3 separate regions of the Homo sapiens genome follow, and regions 1 and 3 are each linked to region 2. Evidence: fine-mapped expression QTL. A gene starts in region 2. Each other region holds a variant in brackets. All regions are shown on one strand. Distances are between the middles of the regions.

Region 1 (7,196 bases), 48 kb before region 2:
TAAGAAGAAAACAACAGGCTCTGGAACACTATATATAGCATGATCCAATTTACTTAAGAAACAAATACTAGGCCGGGTGCAGTGGCTCATGCCTGTAATCCCAGCACTTTGGGAGGCTGAGGCCAGCAGATCACTTGAGGGCAGGAGTTCAAGACCAGCCTGACCAACATGGTGAAACCCCATCTCTACCAAAAATACAAAAATTAGCCAGGTGTGGTGGCAGGTGCATGTAATCCCAGCTACTCGGGAGGCTGGCAGGAGAATCACTTGAACCTGGAGGCAGAGGTTGCAGTGAGCCGAGATCGCGCCATTGCACTCCAGCCTGGGCAACAGAGCAAGACTCCTCTCAAAAACAAAACAAAACAAAAAACCACCACTGAGAATAGGTATGTTTTTAGGTATAAGTATGTATATGAAAAGAAATACATGTGGAAGAAACTTCCCTTCAGAAAGGGGAGTAATTTAAGAGGGCTTTCACTTTCTTTAACCTATGTATTTCTGTCTGAAATTGTAGCTGGACGTGGTGGTGCACACCTGTAGTCCCAGCTACTCAGGAGGCTGAGGTGGGAGGATCACTTGGGCCCAGGAGTTTGAGGCTGCAGTGAGCTATGGTGGCACCACTGCACTGAAGCCTGGGAAACAGAGAGAGACCCTGTCCCTAAAAAATAAAAAATAAAAAAATATATACTTATGTATTGCTTGTGTTATTGGGCTGAAGATCTGGGAAACTCTGGCGTCATCCCTTCGTGATCCATTTATCTACCAACTCACTGATAAATATCCAACACCTGCCAGGTATCTCACACTTGAAACAGGTAACATGATACATAATTCTTAAAGTGCAGGGCTACAGAACCCTAATTCTAATAGCCTACCAGGTATTTTTTTCAGTAAAGACCTGCAAGAGAGCATCTACAAATTCTCCTCTTTAACCACACATTTGGAATCCTTGACTGAAAACTCATTAGCTTTTTCCAAAGGCAAGCTGTATTATAACTAAGCTGGAAAATTTTCTCTTTATTCATCCAATAGGGTTATTTTGAAAGACTCCAGCTGGGGCTGGGCACGGTGGCTCACGCCTGTAATCCCAGCACTTTGGGAGGCCGAGGCAGGTGGATTACCTGAGGTCAGGAGTTCTAGACCAGCCTGGTCAACACAGTGAAACCCCATCTCTACTAAAAATACAAAAATTAGCTGGACGTGCGCCTGTAATCCCAGCTACTCAGGAGGCTGAGGCAGGCGAATCGCTTGAGCCCAGGAGGCCGAGGTTGCAGTGAGCCAAGATCACGCCACTGCACTCCAGCCTGGGCAGTAAAGCAAGACTGCATCTCAAAAACAAAACAAAAAAAAAAAAAAAAAGAAAGAAAGACTCCAGGTAGACTTAGACATAATTCTAACCTTAGATATATTATAGACCCAGCTTGGTTATTAGTATTGAAAATGCTCTTAAAACCACCGTGTCATATATATTTCACACAAGAAGAAATAAATTGAGTAAACATGTGGAAAAATGTTATGTTCACCTGTTAATAAGCAAAAATAAAAAATAAAACAACTCATTAAATTAGCAGACTTTGAAAAATATTGAAAATGGCTACTAATATTGAAGAGACCTTGAAATTACTGCCTGCAACACTGCTAACGGCAGCACAGATTCGAGAGTATTAGCAATGTTTATTAAAAGTCACAAAATACTAGTCTCTGAAACAAAAATCTCATGACTGAGATTGGCTTTTAGTAAATAGTTGCCATGAAGAAAAACAGTTCTTTGGGCAAAGCTTTAATGAGTGCATTATTTATAATAACAAACTTTAGAAACAACCTAAATATAAAAAAAAAGTGTAACAAATAAACTGTGGCACAACCATTCAATGGAACGTTAAACACAATTTTCAATTATTTTATAAAGAAACTGTAATAACATAAAAAATGAAAAGCAATGAGTAATTTTAAAAATCTTCACTCAACTGGGAATGTTATTTTTATAGTGTAAAAGATTAGTAAATTTTTTTTTTTTTGAGACAGATTCTTGCTCTGTTGCCCAGGCTGGAGTGAGTGGCATGATCTCGGCTCACTGTAACCTCTGCCTCCTGGGTTCAAGCGATTCTATTGCCTCAGCCTTCTGAGTAGCTGGGATTACAGGCGCCCGCCACCATGCCTGGCTAATTTTTGTATTTTTAGTAGAGACGGGGTTTCTCCATGTTGGCCAGGCTGGTCTCGAACTCCTGACCTCAGGTGATCCGCTGGCCTCTGCCTCCCAAAGTGCTGGGATTACAGGCGTGAGCCACCATGTCCGGCCTTTATTTATTTTTCTTTTTTATTTATTGGCCACTATACTATTGGGAAAAATTTTTAAATATAGTCATAATTTAAAAATAATTAATTTAAAAATTATGTCTTTTTTTGGTTTTTGTTTTTGAGACGGGGTCTCGCTCTGTTGCCTAGGCTGGAGTACGGTGGCGTGATCTCAGCTCACTGCATCCTCTGCCTCCCAGGTTCAAGCAATTCTCCCACCTCAGCCTCCTGAATAGCTGGGATTACAGGCGCACCACCATGCCCGGCTAATTTTTGTATTTTTTAATAGAAACAGGGTTTCACCATATTGGTCAGGCTGGTCCCAAACTCCTGAACTCAGGTGATCCACCCTCCCCGGCCTCCCAAAGTGCTGGGATGACAGGCGTGAGCCACTGTGCCCAGCCCATAAATTTGTAGGTCATAATTTGACTTAATAAATTTTAAGTCATAAATTAAGTCATAATTTGAAAATTATGAGTATACAGCAATATAGAAATCGAAAAATTTCTTATGTAAGCTCAATGATAAAAGCAGAAAACAAAATTTTACCTGCACTCTCTCAAATTACAGCTATATAAGATATCTATTCAGATGCATAACCCTGAAAGAAAACATGAGCTAAAGTTCATTAGGCTGAAAGAATGATGGTTGGTTTTCCTTCAAAATATTCTTTTTGTTTCCTCAGTATAAGCAGAGTACAAAAAAAAAGTCAAAGCATAGAAAAGCTGTGGGGACCCACCTGCTGCTCCTTTCTAAGGAACATTTCAATCTCTGTATGAGTCCGGGCCTCTTCTTCGGTTTTCATCCTGAGTTTCTGTAAGAACAATCAGATACCAGTACGTCTTCCCCGCAGGGCTGGGAATCAGAAGTTCTCAAGATGAGAGCAGCAGCTCGGTCGGTAGCTGAGGCTCCCTTTACCAGCTGGGATCCCGGGCTTTCAGTTCCCTGCAACTCCTGTTCACCAACACTGCAGAGCCACGTGGCGCGGCACTGTGTGGACTGCGTGTGTCCCTAACGAGA[C/G]GAGCACAATCCCGTGAGCTGAACAGAGGTGCCCACTGAAGGACAGAAACGGCGCTCCAAGGGCACAAGGCTGTGGGGCTTAAAAAGGGGGATTCCGGAGTGCCAGGAAGAGTGTTGACGTGGCCTTGAGCCACGTCAGTCTCAGAGCGAGGAGTCCTCCCACACACAGATTCCACGGCCCAAGGACGTTTGTTCCTGCTTCCCTCTTCCCATCTGCCTGCTGCTCTTTCTTGTTTTCTTTTCTTTTTTGTGAGAAGGGAGTCTCCCTAGTTGAAGTCTGAAGTTGCCCAGGCTGGCTTCAAACTCAAGGATCCTCCTGCCTCACTGCCTCACCTCCGATTAGCTGGGACTAGTGCCTGGCTTTGCGTGTGTGCGTGCGTGCGTGCGTGCGTGTGTGCGTGCGTGCGTGTGTGCCATTTAGCATTCCCCTCAAAGAAGATCTACCACTTCTTTCTTCCTCCTGGCATTTTTCACCGTGACTTCTCATCCTATAAACTCAGGTTTGAACGAAGTTCAGCGCTCTCGATGCTGTATTTCTTACTGGAGGAGTGAAAGGTACTGGTTAGATGAAAGAAACAGCAGCAAAATCCTGCCATAACTAAGCACCTCGTTTTGCCCTCTCCCTATAATTAGTCAGAAAAATGGTGATTGGTTTGCCAAAATAAGAAGTGACCAAGGAGAGAAAGTGCAGCCAATTTTCAAAGTCATTATGAGGCGGGAGATGGAGGCTACAGCCCACTGGAATCTCTGCTTGCGAACACGCATATCCTCATTTAGGCTTTTATTTTCAACCTCAAGTGGAGGGGCTGTTGCCGATAGAGATGGAGGGAAATCTTTGTCTCCCTCCTTTGTTAGCTGAGAGGGGATCAGGAGTGACAGCTCAATTGCCATCTCCTGGGTTCTTGGCTAATGTCCCAGGGATTACCTCAATCTCTTCCACCAAGAGTTCCTCTGTTCTGTTACACTTTTTCTGGGTCTGGGCAATCTGCAGCTCGGTATTGGTTTTCATGTAGCGATTCTCCAAGTTGGATTTTGCCTTCATCTCTTGCAGTTGGTCCTTGAGGTTAGCAATATACTCATTCTGACTCTGTAGTGGAAAGACCAGGTTTCTAAATTGAAAATACATTCTACCTCCATTCAGTTCAGTCAGCGGCTTACGGTTCCCTTTTATGCGTATAAATCAATAAGGAACTGGAACTATTTTTCCGCTGTCACACAATGGGAAATTTAGCCAACAATCATGAAGTGTATAGATGAAAGTGAGTAACACAGCATTTCTAAGAATCAGGGCGCATCAGGGCTGTGAGATTAGTTCCCAGGCACATTATTGCTGTACTCCGTATGTCCCACACAGCTTTCTCATTTTGGTAGGAAGAACACTGGTCAAAATGATCAAAAGAACTGACTTCCCACCCAGGCCTCCAGCTGTGTGAACTTGGCCAAGTCAAATCTCCAACTTTTTACTTTCTATAAAACAAACACACAAACATACAAACACCCAACCTGCCTGAAGTATCTCAGAGAGTGATTATTAGGTTTCCTTGAGAACACGTGTGAAAACGCTTTCTTTTTGCAGGTCACCAAGTGCTTGGCAATTGTGAGGACTCAATAGTCATTAAGAAAAATATTTATTCAGCACCAGGCACTGAGCTAGGAAAATTGTGGAGATCTAAACAGACATATTCCCTTCCCTCATAGAGCTTACAGTCTAATAGAAGAGAGGTGGTTAAAAAGAGACAAACACATGTGTAAACTTCCAAAAATTGTGCAAAATGATAGAAAAGGAAGGCTCGAGAGGCTGTGGGAGGAAATAACAAGGGAGGAGTACATTAGACTCTGGAAGGTCTGAGAAGGACTCTCTCGGGAAAGCGATGGCTCATTCGATACCTGAAGGACAGGTAAGCCCACCACATGAAAAATAGGCTTGGCCAGGCACGGGGGCTCACGCCTGTAATCCCAGCACTTTGGGAGGCTGAGGCATGGCGACCAGCTGAGGTCAGCAGTTTGAGACCAGCCTGGCCAACATGGTGAAACCCCGTCTCTACTAAAAATACGAAAAATAGCTGGGAGTGGTGGCGGGCGCCTGTAATCCCAGCTACTCGGGAGGCTGAGGCAGAAGAATCACTTGAACCCGGGAGGTGGAGGTTGAAGTGAGCTGAGATCATGCCACTGCAGTCCAGCCTGGGTGATAGAGCGAGATTCTGTCTCAAAAAAAAAAAAAAAAAAGAAAAGAAAAAGAAAAAAAGGAAAGAAAAAGAAAAGAAAAATAGGGTTAAGGGAACTCTAAAAAAAAAAAAAAGAATAAGTATATGCCCAAATCCTGAAGCAATCAAGACCTGGATACATTCCAGGAACTGAAAGAAAGCTCCGGAGGCTCTAGCCTAGTGAGGGTTGAGGGGAGGACAGGATGAGGTTGGAGGTCGGTAAGGGCACCACACAGGACCCCGGAGACCCAACTGAGAAATTCAGATTTTATTCCAACTGTCATGGGAATCCTTGGAAAGCTTTTAGTCAGGGAGGTAACATTTGTTTGAAAAGAACTGTTTGGGCGGAATCAGTGTGTGAGTAAGTCCACAGGGAGGGGACCTGACGGCACAGCAAACAAGCACACGACTAGCAACAAAAGTGCTTCAACCCGAGACCTGCTCCTCTAGATACCAACCGCCTTTCTTCTCTTTTTACATTTTTTTTGAGATGGAGGCTCGCTCTTGTTGCCCAGGCTGGAGTGTAGTGGCATGATCTTGGCTTACTGCAAGCTCCACCTCCCAGGTTCAAGTGATCCTCCTGCCTCAGCCTTCTGAGTAGCTGGGATTACAGGTGCTCACCACCACACCCAGCTAATTTTGTATTTTTAGTAGAGATGGGGTTTCTCTACATTGGTCAGGATGGTCTTGATCTCCCGACCTCAGGTGATCCACCTGCCTCGGTCTCCCAAAGTGCTGGGATTACAGGCGTGAGCCACCACGCCTGGCCTCCAATTGCCTTTCGTCTTAACCATGTAAGTAGGGTAGAATTAGTTCTTTTGTATTAAAAAAATTTTTTTGTTTAGAGACAGGATCTCCCTCTGTCACTCAGGCTGGAGTGTAGTGGCTCGATCACAGCTCACTATAACCTCCAATTCCTGGGCTCAAGCCATCTTCCCAAGTAGCTAGTACTACAGGTGCATGTCACCATGCCTGGCTAACTTTTTAATATTTTTAGAGATGGGGGTCTCACTCTGTTGCCCAGGCTGGTCTCAAACTCTTGGCTTCAAGGGATCCTCCTGCCTTGGTCTCTCAAAGTGCTGGGATCACAGACATGAGCCACTGCGCCCGGCTTTGTTGTTGTTGTTGTTGTTGTTGTTTTTGAGACGGTCTTGTTCTGTCACTCAGGCTGAAGTGCAGTGGCATGATCACGGCTCACTGTAACTTTGACCTCCCAGGCTCAAGAAATCCTCCTGCCTCAGCCTACAGAGTAGTTGGGACTACAGGTGCATGACATCACACTCAGCTAATTATTATTATTATTGTAGAAACAGAGTCTCACTGTGTTGCCCAGGCTGGCCTCGAAACCCTGGGCTCAAATGATCCTCCCACCTCAGCCTCCCAACATGCTAGGATTACAGGCAGGAGCCACTGCTGCAGCCAGCCTCTTTTCTTTCTTGAGATAGGGTCCACCGTGTCCCCCAGGCTGTAGTGCAGTGTCACCAGCATAGCTCACTGTAGTCTTGAACTCCTAGACTCAAGGAATCCCCTCTCTCCAGCCTCCCAAGTACCTAGGGAATTAATTCTAAGTAACCATTGGAAGAAAAAACAAAGTGGTAATTGGACAAATCCTCCGTTAAGGAAAGCAAGCATAGGCAGCGGTGTCCAATCTTTTGGCTTCCCTGGGCCGCACTGGAA
Region 2 (7,001 bases):
AAAGCAAGACGCCCTCCCCCAGAGGTCCCTCTGTCACACTGGCAGTTCTAAGAAAGGTTTGGTCAGTCCAATGGTGGTATGCAAGCCAAAGCTGCCATTGTTGGAGTCCCGTGCTTCGTGGACATGGGCTTGTGTTAGTACTCTGCCAGGCTCATTTATTAGGATTGTGGTGGTTTTTTTTTTTTTTTTTTTGAGACAGTCTTGCTCTGTCGTCTAGGCTGGAGTGCAGTGGCGCAATCTTGGCTCACTGCACGCTCCGCCTCCCGGGTTCACGCCATTCTGTCTCAGCCTCCCAGGATTGTGGTTTTAAGGCAAACAAAGTGCACTGATGCTGTATTCACCAGAAGTGAGCAGTACTTCAAGGCCGGAAGTTGGAAGTTGTATATTAGAATGCTAATGAAATTGAACTTGGGAATTACGCAGTCAGCGCGAGGAAGTGCTGATCTTGGACACCCACTCCAAAAGGCCAACATAAGCTAAAAGTACCTACTGTGTTCATTGTGCCAGTTAAGTAGATGTGATCAGTAGTACTCGGGGTATTCAGGGATAGAGGCATGTAGGTATACTGGCTGCGTAACATAAAACCGTAAAGTGTAGAGGAAGAAATAGGGCGGCATCTCAAAGAGGAAATGGCAGGAAGATTTTAGGAACACAAGTGGCTGACTGGAAAGTCCAGAAAACTAAAATGCCACATGAGAGGTCTCCTGTACTGAACTGAGGATCTTAGGCTTAAGATTGTTCTTGAGTGTAATACAACGTCACTGAAGAACTTGATTCACAGGAAATTTTAAAATTTACTCATTTGAGACAGGGTTTCTGTTGCCCAGCCTGTAGTGCAGTGGTGTGATCATAGCTCACTGCACCTTTGAACTTCTAGGCTCAGACAATCCCCTGCCCACAACCTCCAGAGAATCTGGTGCATGCCAGGCACGTCCAGCCAATTAAAATGTTTTTTCGGGGTCCCAGGCTGGTCTCGATTCCTGGCCTCAAGTGATCCCCCTGCCTTGTTCTCCTAAAGTACTGGGATTACAGATATGAGCCACCAGCTCAGATTATTTCAAATCCCAATGGCATCCCAGCATAAACAAGGGAAAATTAGGTGGGCTTTTCAGTCTCAAATGGAGAATTCTAACATGTTTCTGGCTTTGGGGGCTGGATGGATAATGGTGCATTTACAAAGTTGGGGAATCAGGAGATGGTTTTGTGGGAGGAGCTAAAGTTGAATTTGAGGAAGCTGTAAGATGTTAACCTGTGGACATATCCATGAAGACAGATGGGTATTTCAGGTCTGGGTTAGGCATATGGAGAAGTGGATGGTATTCTGAGTGGAACAGACACACGGTAAGTGGTAGGCATCTGAGCAAAGCGGGGGAAAACAAACGGTTGAGACTTTAACTCGAGTAACTTACATGTGCAATGGCAAATGAGACTCAAAAGCAAATACATGCTCTTCCTTACTGAGATGATGCAGCATTTGTAAATAATAAATGTATGTTTTTATGTTTTTCTCCTCCCATATGGAAATTAAGTCAAAAGTACTCAAGTCACCGTTGCCAAAGGAGGAGTCCTGTGGTTTACAGGAAAGGGCTTGCGTGGCTGGTAACTTGTCCACTACACCATTGAAACAGCTTTGCCTCCTGGCTGGGCGCGGTGGCTCACGCCTGTAATCCCAACACTTTGGGAGGCGGAGGCGGGCGGATCACCTGAGGTCATGAGGTTGAGACCAGCCTGGCCAACGTGGTGAAACTACGTCTCTACTAAAAACATAAAAATTGGCCGGGCGTGGTGGCGGGTGCCTGTAATCCCGGCTACTCGGGAGGCTGAGGCAGGGGAATAGCTTGATCCCGGGAGGCAGAGGTTGCATTGAGCCGAGATTGTGTCACTGCACTCCAGCCTGGGCGACGAGTGAAACTCCGTCTCAAAAAAAAAAGAAACAGCCTTTCCTCAGCATAACACTATTGTTACAGCCAGGAGCTTAGGATGACTGGTTCCATTCTTTATTCACAATAGCAATTTATTTGTGGTATTGTAGTGGAAAGGGCACGTTTCCTAAGTTACAAATGTGGTTTGGAATCCCACCTTCCACTAGTTGTGGGATGATACACACATTTAGTGAGTATTTACTTGTAAAATGGTAATACTTAAAACACCACCCCATCCTCGTAGCTGAATCTCCACCCATAGTTTGTAACTTGAGGTTTTCCTTCTTTCCTACTCCTTCATTTCCCAGTATAGTAGCTTACCTATTCAATTCCCGTTGAATGACTTCCAGCTCAGTGAGTTCGTAATTTTACTTCTTAGTGTCATGAGCCACTGGGATTTGTCCCAATTTCCCATTTTGTATAGTTCCTCACGGCTCAGTTTCGAAGGCAAGGTTTCCTTAATGGCCAGGATCCCCCTTATCTCAGGTGCAGTGGCAATTCTTGGCTGGAAACTAAAAGATGGAGTTGAGTAAAACAGTAAACGGTGTATCATAGATTTTTATAGGAAATGGCGTTAGTTAAGTAATGGGCCTAAAGTTGGTGACTCAGGATAAGTAAATGAAAGTATTCCACTCACCTTTTCATACAGAGGACTACACTGAAAGATTTTGCAGAGGGTTGTATGTACGTCTAAACACCTGGCACCTAGTAGGTGCATGTCACTTTGGTAAATGAAAGAACTGAAAAACTGCCTCAAGACACCCACATACGGCCAACGCCCGCTAGCCTTTCTTCCTCCCACAGCCCCACTCACGTGGGCCTCCAAACAGCATTTATTGGCCGGCTTCGCGCCACGAGACGCGATGGACGTGATCGCCGCCCTCATCTTCTGCGGCGAACTTCTAGCGGGTGACGCTGTCCAATCGGAAAGCGCCTTTCCGCCGGCTGGGCCCTCCGTCTACCCCCAGCGGCGAGGGGCGGGGCCGGCGCGGGCGCAGAGGCGTCACGCACTCCATGGTAACGACGCTCGGCCCGAAGATGGCGGCCGAATGGGGCGGAGGAGTGGGTTACTCGGGCTCAGGCCCGGGCCGGAGCCGGTGGCGCTGGAGCGGGTCTGTGTGGGTCCGAAGCGTTTTACTCCTGTTGGGCGGGCTCCGGGCCAGCGCCACATCTACTCCCGTCTCCTTGGGCAGTTCCCCTCCCTGCCGGCACCACGTCCCCTCTGACACTGAGGTAGGGCGACATGGGCGGGAGCGGGCCCTCTCAGGGTAAAGTCACCCAGAAGGAGCAGGCGTAGGAGATAGTGACTGGGAGAAGGTGTCCTGGATGAGAAAGCGAAATTGGGGCAGAGCCTGACTCTTACAGGCCTGGGACCCGCTCTCAGCTCCCTACACCCTGCAAGTTGGCTGTTAGGCGCTCAGAACAGTATCACTTCTGTGCGGAGGGTTGTGCTTAGCAGTAGCCCTCGAGGAGTGGTTTTCAAACTTGAGCGTGCATCACAGTCACCCGACGCACATGGTACAACACGGATTGCCGCCCTCAGTCCCCCACTTAGTGACTCAGTAGGTCTGGGATGAGTCCCCAGAGTTGACAGTTTACGTTCCCAGCTGGTTGGTGAGATATGCTTGTCCGGGGACCACTTTAGGAACCGCTGACCTGAAGTTTCGGGAAGACATTGAACGGAGAGCCAGATAGAGGCGTTGGTGGGACGTTGGGGGCTCACTGGAGACAAAATTCAGGTTTCTTTTCACGTTATGTCGTCACTTTGTTTGCTTTACCCGGTTCCTCTGCTCTGGAAGTGCCTGCCCGCCTCCCATCCCATTTTTCTCTCTGCTTAAATTCTTTGTCTCATTTCAAATTCCCTAACCTCAAGGCAGCCTGCTGAAACCACCACAGCGCAATATTCTTTTCATTAAAAAGTACATCGTGTCTGTACTCCCTCCTGGCATTTAACCAAGTACTGCTATGGGATAATGGCTTATTTTTTAGGCGTATCTTGCCTTTGCAGTTAGATTATAAGGTTCCGTGGGATAAGGTTTGTGTTTCATACTTTGATTCCTTCACAGTATTTAGGTCAGAGGTGGGTCCACGATAATCCATATTCTTTGAGAAAGGGAGAGTACCTGGGGCAGGGCTGCATGCTGATACACCTACACATGTTCAATTCAGCCCAGAAATCTAAAGACACTCATTTTTATGGTAATTTCCCAAAATGTTACATGCATACTCTTCATAACCAAGTGAGCCAAAATATTAACTTCGGAGTTTATAGCTTTTTTGCAGCTTTTATCATGCTGCATTTTCGCTGAATTCTTTAAAAAAAATTTCCCACAAAACCCTGCACTTCTCTCTTTTAATTTGGATTAAAATAAGAGAAAGAGTCCTGGTCCCTAATACGTTTCGCTAGTTCCTCATAGAGTATATAAATACCCTGTCGTCCTCACTATTCTCCTTGTTTTAACCTGGACACGGAGTATAGCCAGGAGCTACAGTGTTCACTGTAGTTACGCTAATGACTATACCTCTGTTCAATGCTACAGGAAATTACATAACTTTTTTGGTTTTGGTGGTGTTGGGGAGCTACAAAACAGTTTTACTTTTTAACTGGTTCTCAACTAAAGCCTGTAAGTTTTGTTTTTACCTTTTATTACGCCGGTACAAACAACATCAGAATAATTTAATGAACCCGCATGGACCCATCACCTAGCTTTAACACCTAGCTTTAAGGTTCCGCCATTCTTGTTTCATATACTTTCAGCCATTCCGCAGCCCCCTACTTGAGTTACTGTTCTTTTGAAGTTTTTTGGTAAAATTTACATATATTGAAATGCCACAAATGTATCCATGCACATCCACATAAAGCATACAACCCATCACAACATAGAACGTTCCCACATCTCCAGACGTTCCCTCCTGTCCTGTGCCAGTCTCCTGCCCACCCCAGGCAACTAGTTTTCTAATTGTTTTTTTTTTAAATACTAGATTAGTTTGGCCAATTCTAGAGCTTCGTGTATTGAATGGAATTATATGGTATGTACTCCTCTGTATTTGGCATCTGCTCAGCATTATGTCTGTGAGATTCGTGTTGTATGTGATAGTAATTTATTCCTTTGAATTGCTGAGTATTCCATTGAATACTTATATCACAATTTGTTTTTCCGTTATCTTGTTCAAAGATGGGTATTTTGGTTTCTTCCAGATTTTAGCTATTATAAATAAAGCTGCTGTCAATATTCTTGTACAGTAATTTTTGTGGATATATGTTTTCATTGTTCTTGGATAAATACCTAGGGGTGAAATTACTGGGTCAAGGGTAGGTGAATGTTTATAAAAAATACTAACCCTTTCTCCAAAATACTCTACCATTTTACACCCCCATCAACAAAATATTAGTTATGGTTGCTGCATATCCTCACCAACAGATGTCCTTTCTAAGAAATCTTTAAATACCCCCTAGGTCATAAAAATATTCTCCTGTGTTCTAGAAGCCTTCACTTTTAGGATTATGATTCATCTGAAATTAATTTTTATATATGATGTGAGATAGGGGATCAATATCCTTTTTTTTTTTTTTTGCCCCATATGGGTATTCAGTTGCCTGGATTATGTACCTCTGTAATAAATATTGAAATCAGACAGTATTGTTATTGTAAGCATTCCTGCTTTGTTCTTCCTTTTCAAAATGATTTTGGCTATTTTAAGGCTTTTATATTTCCATATAAATTTATTTATTTTTTGGCAGGGGGAGGCTCAAAGACAGATCCATATAAATTTTAGAGTCAGCTTCTCAGTTTCTTCAAAAAAGCCTGATGGGTTTATGATTGGGATTGCATTTACTCTATAGATGATTTGGAGATAATTGACATCTAACAGTATCAAGTCTTTCAATCCATGAACATAATGTATGTTTCTCCATTTATTGAGGTGATGCATAATTTTTCTCAGCAAAAATGTATAGATCTTGCATTTTTTCTTCTGTTTTCTTTTCTCTCTCTTTTTTTTTTTTGTTTTGTTTTGAGACAGTCTTGCTCTGTCACTCAGGCTGGAGTGCAGTGGCAGAATCATAGCTCACAGCAGGCTTGAACTCCTGGGCTCAAATGATCCTTCTGCCTTAATCTCCCAAGTAGCTGGGACTCCCAAGTATGCGCCACTACACTTGGCTAATTTTTTATTTTTTGTTGAGACAGAGTCCAGGTGGGTTTTGAACTCCTGGCCTTAGGCGATCCTCCTGCCTCGACCTCCCAAAGTGCCAGGATTACAGGCATGAGCCGCCGTGCCCAGCCAGATCTTGCATGTTTTTTGTTAAATGTTTTCCTAAGTCTTTTATTTTTTGATGCCATTGTCAGTGGAATTATGGTTAAAGTTTTCCAGTTGTTTGCTGCTAGTATGTAAAAATACACTGCTAGTAGGTAGAAATAATTTTTGTATATTAACCTTGTCTTCTGAGACCTAGCTAAACTTATTTATTCTACTAGGGTTTCCTCCCTTACAATTTTTGATGTTAGCAATGTATTAACTATAAATAGGAACAATTTTTGTTGTTGTAGTTTTGTATCATTTATGTATTTTTTCCCCCTTATTGCTCTGGTGAGGACAGGCAGTTCCAGGCTGAGCAAAAGTGAGATAGCACGCCTCCTTGCCATTTGTTCCTGATCTTAGGACCAGTCTCTGACCATTAAGTATGATGTTAACTTTACATTTTTTTGTAGTTCCCTTTATCAGATTGAGAAAGCTCCCTTTGGTTTCTGGTTTCCCGAGGGTTTTTATCCTGAATGGGGACAAATTTTGTCAAATGCTTTTTGTTTTTTCTGGTAATTATTGAGATAATCATATAGTTTCTCACTTTATGAACTGTTATGTGGTAGATTACATTGCATTTTCCAATAGTAAATCAACGTTGCTTTTTTGGGATAAACCTTACTTGGTCATGTTGGCTTTGGTAATTTTCTTTAATGTTTGTTTCTATTTCATTGTTTTCTGTTCTTTGTTATTTCCTTTTTCTACTTATTGTGGATTTAGTTTGCTCATATTGTTAGGCGGAAACTTAGATGACTGTTTTTTAACCTTTTTTTCCTTCTA
Region 3 (7,196 bases), 86 kb before region 2:
GCCATTTGGCCAATCATGTGCGACCTCGATCTGTCCCAAGCATTCATGTTCCCTCACCAGCTGTAGTAAGTTGATAATCCTAAAAAGCCTTGGCTATTCATCAGACATTTGTTAAGCACAGTGGACAGACATTTCTTAAGCATTGTGCTAGATATTAAGGATACAGATATAAAGAGTCCAGTCTCTACCTTCCTGGTCTCACTTCTACTCGAGAAGAAATAGACATGTATACAGCTACTTACAGCAGTGCGATAAATGTAAGAAAGGCATGTACAGTGTGTGTTATAGGGATATAAAAAGGGGCCACTTAACTCCACCTGGAGAGTTCAGGGAAGCCTTCCCAGAACGGGCAAAATTTGAACTAATTCTTGAAGTTTAAGAAGGAATTTTCCAGCAGTACAGAGAGGGGAGGGGGCCTTCCAGGCATAGGATTTCTAGATTCAGAAGCTAAGGAAAGTTTGGCTTTTACTTAAGGAATTGGTAAATTGTTCAGAATGGATCGTGCACAGGGTTGTAATACAAATGGTAAGGGGTAAGGCTAGAGACGTGAGCTGGGGCCGTGGTACAAAGGCCTTATGAACCGTGTGAAGGACGTTTACCCTAGTACAGACAATGAGGATACACTGAATTAAAGAGGGAATACCATGATTCTAACTGCAGTTTAGAATGACGAATCTAGGCTGGGCGCGGTGGCTCATGCTTATAATCTTTGCAATTTGGGAGGCCGAGGCAGACGATTGCTTGAGCCCAGGAGTTTGAGACCAGCCAGGACAATATGGCAAAACCCCGTCTCTACCAAAAATACAAAAATCAGCTGGGTATGGTGGCATGTGCCTATAGTCCCAGCTACTCAGGAGGCTGATGTGGGAGGATCACTTGAGCCCAGGAGTTCGAGGCTGCAGTGAGCCGTGATTGTGCCAGTGCACTCCAGCCTAGGTGAGAGAGCAAGACCCTGTCTCAAAGAAAAAAAAAAAAAAAAAAAAGGAATGATGAATCTAGGTGCTAAGTGAGAAATGGAAAAATTAAAGGTGGTACACTACAAAGATGCCCAAGCCAGGCTCAGTGGCTTGTGCCTGTAGTCCCAGCTACTTGGGAGCCTGAGGCATGAGGATCCTATGAGCCCAGGAGTTTGAGACCAGCTTGGGTGATCTTGTTTCTTAAAAGAAAAAGGAAAAGAGACTGGGTGCACTGGCTTACGCCTATAATCCCAGCGTTTTGGGAGCCCGAGGCTGGTGGATCACCTGAGGTCAGGAGTTCGAGACCAGCCTGGCCAACATGGTGAAACCCCAACTCTACTAAAAATACAAAATTAGCCAGGAGTGGTTCATACATCTGTAATCCCAGCTACTTGGGAGGCTGAGCCAGGAGAATCACTTGAACCCAGGAGGCGGAGCTTGCAGTGAGCTGAGATCGCACCACTGCACTCCAGCCTGGGCAAGACAGAGCGAGACTCTGTCTCAAAAGAAAAAAAGGGAAAAGAAAAGAAAGATGCCCAATTAAAAGGCTGTTGTATTAGTCCAGGCCAGGAAGATAACAAGCCGGGACTAAAGCCTGGACTAACTGGGCAGTGAGAGGGAAGATGGTTCAAAGGTAAAACTGACATGATCTGTGACCGACCTCAGGTGGAAGATGAGGGAGAAAATGCATTCAGGATAACTGGCAGGTTCTCTTTGCACTGCTGGTCAGGTCTGGGCATCAGTTTCAGGATGGCAGTCCACAAAAGAACAGGCTTTGGGTTGACACACCCCTCCTCTGTTTTCCTCACATTTTTATCATGAAAAATTTCAACCTTCAGAAAAGTGGAAAGAATCCTACAACGAACACTATTAAAGTCTGCACCTAGATCTGACGTTTCTTGCATTTTGCCGCACTTGCTTTATGTATCTATATTTGTATGTGTATTTTAACTACACCATCCAAAACTTACAGATGTAATATACTTTTCCCCCAGTGTGTTTCAGGGACCTGTCCTAGGCCACCTTGCTCTTCCCTTAAGCCCATAGCCAGTGACGGACAAGCATGGGGCTGAGCCCTCCTACCTCAAGGAGGGAGTGTCGTGTGGTTCACACTTGTGAGCTCCCTGTGGGATCAAGCTGAAGCTGAGAAGGAGACAAGCAGGAGGATCACCTGTGGCTGGGAGTTTAAGACCAGCCTGGGCAATATAGTGAGATCCCATCTCTACAAAAATACTTAAAAAAATTAGGCGTGCACCTGCTACTCAGGAAGCTGTGGCGGGAGGATCACTTGGGCCCAGGAGTTTGAGGCTGCAGTGAGCCACGATCATGCCACTGCACAACAACCTGGGCAACAGAGCGAGACCCTGACCCTAAAAAAGAAAGAAAGGGCCAGGCACAGTGGCTCTTGCCTGTAATCCCAGCACTTTGGGAGGCCCAGGTGGGCAGATCACGAGGTCAGGAGTTCGAGACCATCCTGGCCAACATGATGAAACCCCATCTCTACTAAAAATACAAAAATTAGCTGTGCATGGTGGTGCACACCTGTAGTCCCAGCTACTTGGGAGGCAGAAGCAGGAGAATCACTTGAGTCCAAGAGACGGAGGTTGCAGTGAGCCAAGATAGCACCACCACACTCCAGCCTGGCGACAGAGTGAGACTCTGTCTCAAAAGAAAAAAAAAAAAAAAAAAGACTGAAAGGAAATGAATCAAGTGTTGTAGTTACATTTAAATGATGAACTATGGGTAATTAATTTTTTTGGCTGTTCCTCCAAGTTTTCTTTAGTGCAGGGGTCCCCAACCCCTGGGCCACAAATGGGTACCAGTCTGTGGCCTGTTAGGAACTGGGCTGCACAGCAGGAGGTGAACAGGCCAGTGAGCAAAGCTTCATCTGTATTTACAGCCACTCCCCATTACTCACATCACCACCCGAGCTCTGCCTCCTGTCAGATCAGCAACAGTATTAGATCCTCAGAGGAGCATGAACGCTGGTGTGAACTGCGCATGCGAGGAAGGGATCTAGGCCACGGGCTCCTTATGAGAATCTAATGCCTGATGATCTGTCAGTGTCTCCCATCATCCCCAGATGGGACTGTCTAGTTGCAGGTAAACAAGCTCAGGGCTCCCACTGACTCTACATTACGGTAGATTTCATTATGTATGATTATTTCATTATATATTACAATGTAATAATAGAAATAAAATACACAATAAATGTAATGTGCCTGAATCAGCCTGAAACCATCCCCCCCAGCTCCAGCCCTGTCCATGGAAAAATTGTCTTCTGTGAAACCAGTCCCTGGTGCCAAAAAGGTTGAGGACTGCTGCCTTAGTGTTACACTGTTTTAAAATGGAAAAAAAAAGTTTGTAACTATTCGTTCAAAGTTTTTCTATTTAGTACTTGCCTTCCAAAATCAAAGCCAATGTCTCAAGTGTGGGGTGACAAAGTACTGCCCACAGGCCAGCACTTCTTCTTGTAAATCAAGTTTCACTGGAACCCAGTCACACTTTCTTGTTTGCATATTGTCTATAGTTGCTTTCAAGCTCCTGGCAGACTCGAGTGGTTGCAACAGTTCTTTTTTTTTTTTTGAAATGGAGCTTTGTTCTTGTTGCCCAGGCAGGAGTGCAATGGTGCGATCTCAGCTCCCCACAACCTCTGCCTCCCGGGTTCCCGGGTTCAAGTGATTCTCGTGCCTCAGCCTCCCGAGTAGCTGGGATTACAGG[T/C]GCCCGCCACCACACCTGGCTAATTTTTGTATTATTAGTAGAGACGGGGTTTCTCCATGTTCGTCAGGCTGGTCTCGAACTCCCGACCTGAGGTGATCCGCCCACCTCAGCCTCCCAAAGTGCTGGGATTATGGCGTGAGCCACCGCACCTGGCATTGCAACAGTTCTTATGGCCCTCAGAACTAACATTTATTATCTGATCCTTTAAAAAAAAGTTCGCTGACCCCCTAGTCTACAGCATTGAGAGTTATGAAGCGATTGCCAGGAGTATTTCTAAAGTTAGCAAATATTTTTTAATGTTGCTAGTAGGCTGGGCATTTAGCTGATGCCTCTGATCCCAGCACTTTGGGAGGCTGAGGCAGGCAGATTGCTTGAACTCAGGAATTCAAGACCAGCCTGGGCAACGTGGCGAACCCTGTCTCTACAAAAATTGCCCAGGTGTGATGGCATGCAACTATAGTCCCAGCTACTTGGGAGGCTGAGGTGGGAGGATCACCTGAGCCTGGGAGGTCAATGATACAGCGAGCCAGGCTTGCGCCACTGCACTCCAGCCTGGGTGGCAGTGAGACCCTGTCCCAGAAACAAAACTTCTCTAGTAACACATTTTCTTTTCCTCATTTCAGCCTAAATTAACAATGGCGAAATGCAGGCGAAATGTGGAAAATTTCCTAGAAGCTTGCAGAAAAATTGGTGTACCTCAGGTAATAAATTTATCATTTTTTATGTTGCCTAAATAGACTTGGTTGTCCTAAAATTTTAGAAATGTAAATCTCTAAAATCTTACAGGACTAGCTCTGAGCTAAGTCGATCATAATTAACATGACTTTGTGTTACAAGAGTCAGTGTACTTTTGAACAGTTTTCCTTGATTATTTCCAAGGACCACACAAAGAAATTATAAATATATAGATTGAAATAAGTATAAGTAATTTGAAATAATTATTCTATTTTCCTAAACTTTCCCACTTGCTATTTGACAACTAAATATATCCTTCAAAAACTAAGTATATCTCAGATTGAGAATGCTGCAGTTGGCTTCAGTGTTCTAACACTTGCTTTGATACTTTTTAAAATGTTTTAGACTTCCAGAAATGTTGAAAAAATAGCCTAGAGTTCCTTTTGTATACTTCAGTCAATTTCTTCTAATGTTAACTAACGTCTAATACAAACATAGGACAGTAATTCAAACTAAGTAACATGAGAACAATACGATTAACTGAATTACAGGCTTTATTTGGATTTCATCAGTTTTTCCATGAAGCTCTGGTTCTTTGGAGTCTGGCATGCAACAGGCCATTTCTAAGCTGTTGTCCTGCTATGAGGATTTATTGCCTCCAGCTCAGTTATAACTTTATTGCCCTTTAATATTACAAATAGTTAAATTTATTTATAGATGCGATTAAGGGAAATGAACTTGATACAGTCTTATCCAATAACCCCTTTAAAAAGCAATTATATTAAACCAACTAAGTATTATACTATTAAGGAATATTATGTGGTATAAAGACAAATTTAAAGAAATAAATGACTTGGTGCCATGTGATACTTTTTCATTAACCACGACCATTACAAGTCTTGTTAACATATTTTGTCTATAGCCTGCAAGGAGGAAAACATGATTCTTCTCTATCACCTTCTAATTAGGTATCAGTAACTCAGGGGTGGCCCTGGGGCTCATCAACAGCTCCACCATTGCTCTCAGAGTTTGGTTCCTGTTCCTGTAGCTTCCATGACAGTGATTCTCTTTACCCAACTCACCGCACCCATGGCAGTGATTCTCTTTACCCAACTCACCGCACCCATGACAGTGATTCTCTTTACCCAACTCACCGCACCCATGGCAGTGATTCTCTTTACCCAACTCACCGCACCCATGGCAGTGATTCTCTTTACCCAACTCACCGCACCCATGGCAGTGATTCTCTTTACCCAACTCACCGCACCCATGGCAGTGATTCTCTTTACCCAACTCACCGCACCCATGGCAGTGATTCTCTTTACCCAACTCACCGCACCCATGGCAGTGATTCTCTTTACCCAACTCACCGCACCCATGGCAGTGATTCTCTTTACCCAACTCACCGCACCCATGGCAGTGATTCTCTTTACCCAGTTCACCGCACCCATGGCAGTGATTCTCTTTACCCAACTCACCGCACCCATGGCAGTGATTCTCTTTACCCAACTCACCGCACCCATGGCAGTGATTCTCTTTACCCAGTTCACCGCACCCATGGCAGTGATTCTCTTTACCCAACTCACCGCACCCATGGCAGTGATTCTCTTTACCCAACTCACCGCACCCATGGCAGTGATTCTCTTTACCCAGTTCACCGCACCCATGGCAGTGATTCTCTTTACCCAACTCACCGCACCCATGGCAGTGATTCTCTTTACCCAACTCACCGCACCCATGGCAGTGATTCTCTTTACCCAACTCACCGCACCCATGGCAGTGATTCTCTTTACCCAACTCACCGCACCCATGACAGTGATTCTCTTTACCCAGTTCACCGCACCTCTTTCTAACTAGCCAGGAGTTGACTAGGCCACAGCATCACATGTTACAAAGTGAAAGAGAGAGCGCCCAGCTCCACAGATCATCTGTGTCAGCCAGCAGGATTCCCAGGATTGTTTTTCTCTTATGAAAGTAGATCATCATTCTATTATTTATTTTTTACTTTTTTCTTTTGCTGTTTTTTTTTTAACTGAATTATACAAGAATGGAAATTTACATAAAGTGGTAGTTAGCAAACACCTTTTTGATTCCTATGGACAAATTGAAAGCAAAATTTTCGTTTTTATATTATGTTGTTTTATAAAGGGTCATCTTTTAGAACAGACCTTTTTAAATATTTTGAGAGCACTGAATATGGTTTCTGAAGAAATAACATACATTCTTTTAAACAAGTTTATTCTAATAGTGCACATTAGCCTCCAGTTCTTCCCTTCTGCTTCCTAAAGAGGTTCTTGCTACACAAACATCCAGTGTCTGCTCTAGTTCCCTGCCACAGTGTCTTTAAACAAAGAGAGTATGGCATGGGTTGGTGCAGAGAATGGGAAATGCAAAATAGACAGGAGAGTGCTGAAAATGGCCCCACTCAAGCAAGTCATGTTGACTTACCAGATGTCAAAACCTGTTGAAAGGTCTAAGCCTGTCCGCGGGGCTTTCGGAAGCATCCTCTGAGGGTCTCTGAGATTTAAAGTCCGTACCTTGGAATTATTTCAGGATGTTCCCACCATCAGCCAACAAAGTACAAAACAGTGTGCCTTAAAATACACATTTAAGTTGGTATTTGCATGCAGTGGTTGACCATGTTTGTTATGGGCCAGCCTGCCCCTGTTCCTACCAGAGCTGTGCTGTTGGAAGGCAAGTACGAAGAAAAAAAAAATACAGTTTTAAAAGACTGGGTCTTTTTCCAGAGTGGTTAGGCTGAGGTTTTGATGCATCCTCCCTCCTTCTCCGTCACCAGAAAGAGGAAATGGACGTTCCCATAGGCTGCCCCTTCCTTCTCCCCTT

The links.
Region 1: its variant is fine-mapped to the expression of DRC9 in whole blood (TOPMed, PIP above 0.99). The same link has a PIP of 0.9 or more in esophagus mucosa and spleen.
Region 3: its variant is fine-mapped to the expression of DRC9 in visceral fat (GTEx, PIP 0.91).

The regions. Positions count from the first base shown.
Region 1 is chr3:197,909,641-197,916,836 of GRCh38, forward strand. DRC9 (dynein regulatory complex subunit 9) reads right to left here. Exons shown (of 12, transcript NM_032263.5): 8 at 4,241-4,402; 9 at 3,035-3,109. LOC124906330 (a long non-coding RNA gene) reads left to right here. Exons shown (of 2, transcript XR_007096246.1): 2 at 1-691. Among named protein-coding and RNA genes, the nearest start is that of RPL35A, 37 kb to the right of the region's middle. RefSeq lists enhancers at 2,991-4,190, 3,574-4,205. The variant C/G (reference allele first, on the strand shown) is at 3,316.
Region 2 is chr3:197,957,286-197,964,286 of GRCh38, forward strand. It overlaps DRC9 (dynein regulatory complex subunit 9), which reads right to left and starts at 2,706. Exons shown (of 12, transcript NM_032263.5): 1 at 2,560-2,706; 2 at 2,244-2,434. LMLN (leishmanolysin like peptidase) reads left to right here and starts at 2,932. Exons shown (of 17, transcript NM_001136049.3): 1 at 2,932-3,155. The coding sequence starts at 2,961. RefSeq lists an enhancer at 1,709-2,209 and a silencer at 2,761-2,990.
Region 3 is chr3:197,871,398-197,878,593 of GRCh38, forward strand. LRCH3 (leucine rich repeats and calponin homology domain containing 3) reads left to right here. Exons shown (of 21, transcript NM_001365715.1): 19 at 1-65; 20 at 4,301-4,378. Among named protein-coding and RNA genes, the nearest start is that of RPL35A, 75 kb to the right of the region's middle. The variant T/C (reference allele first, on the strand shown) is at 3,678.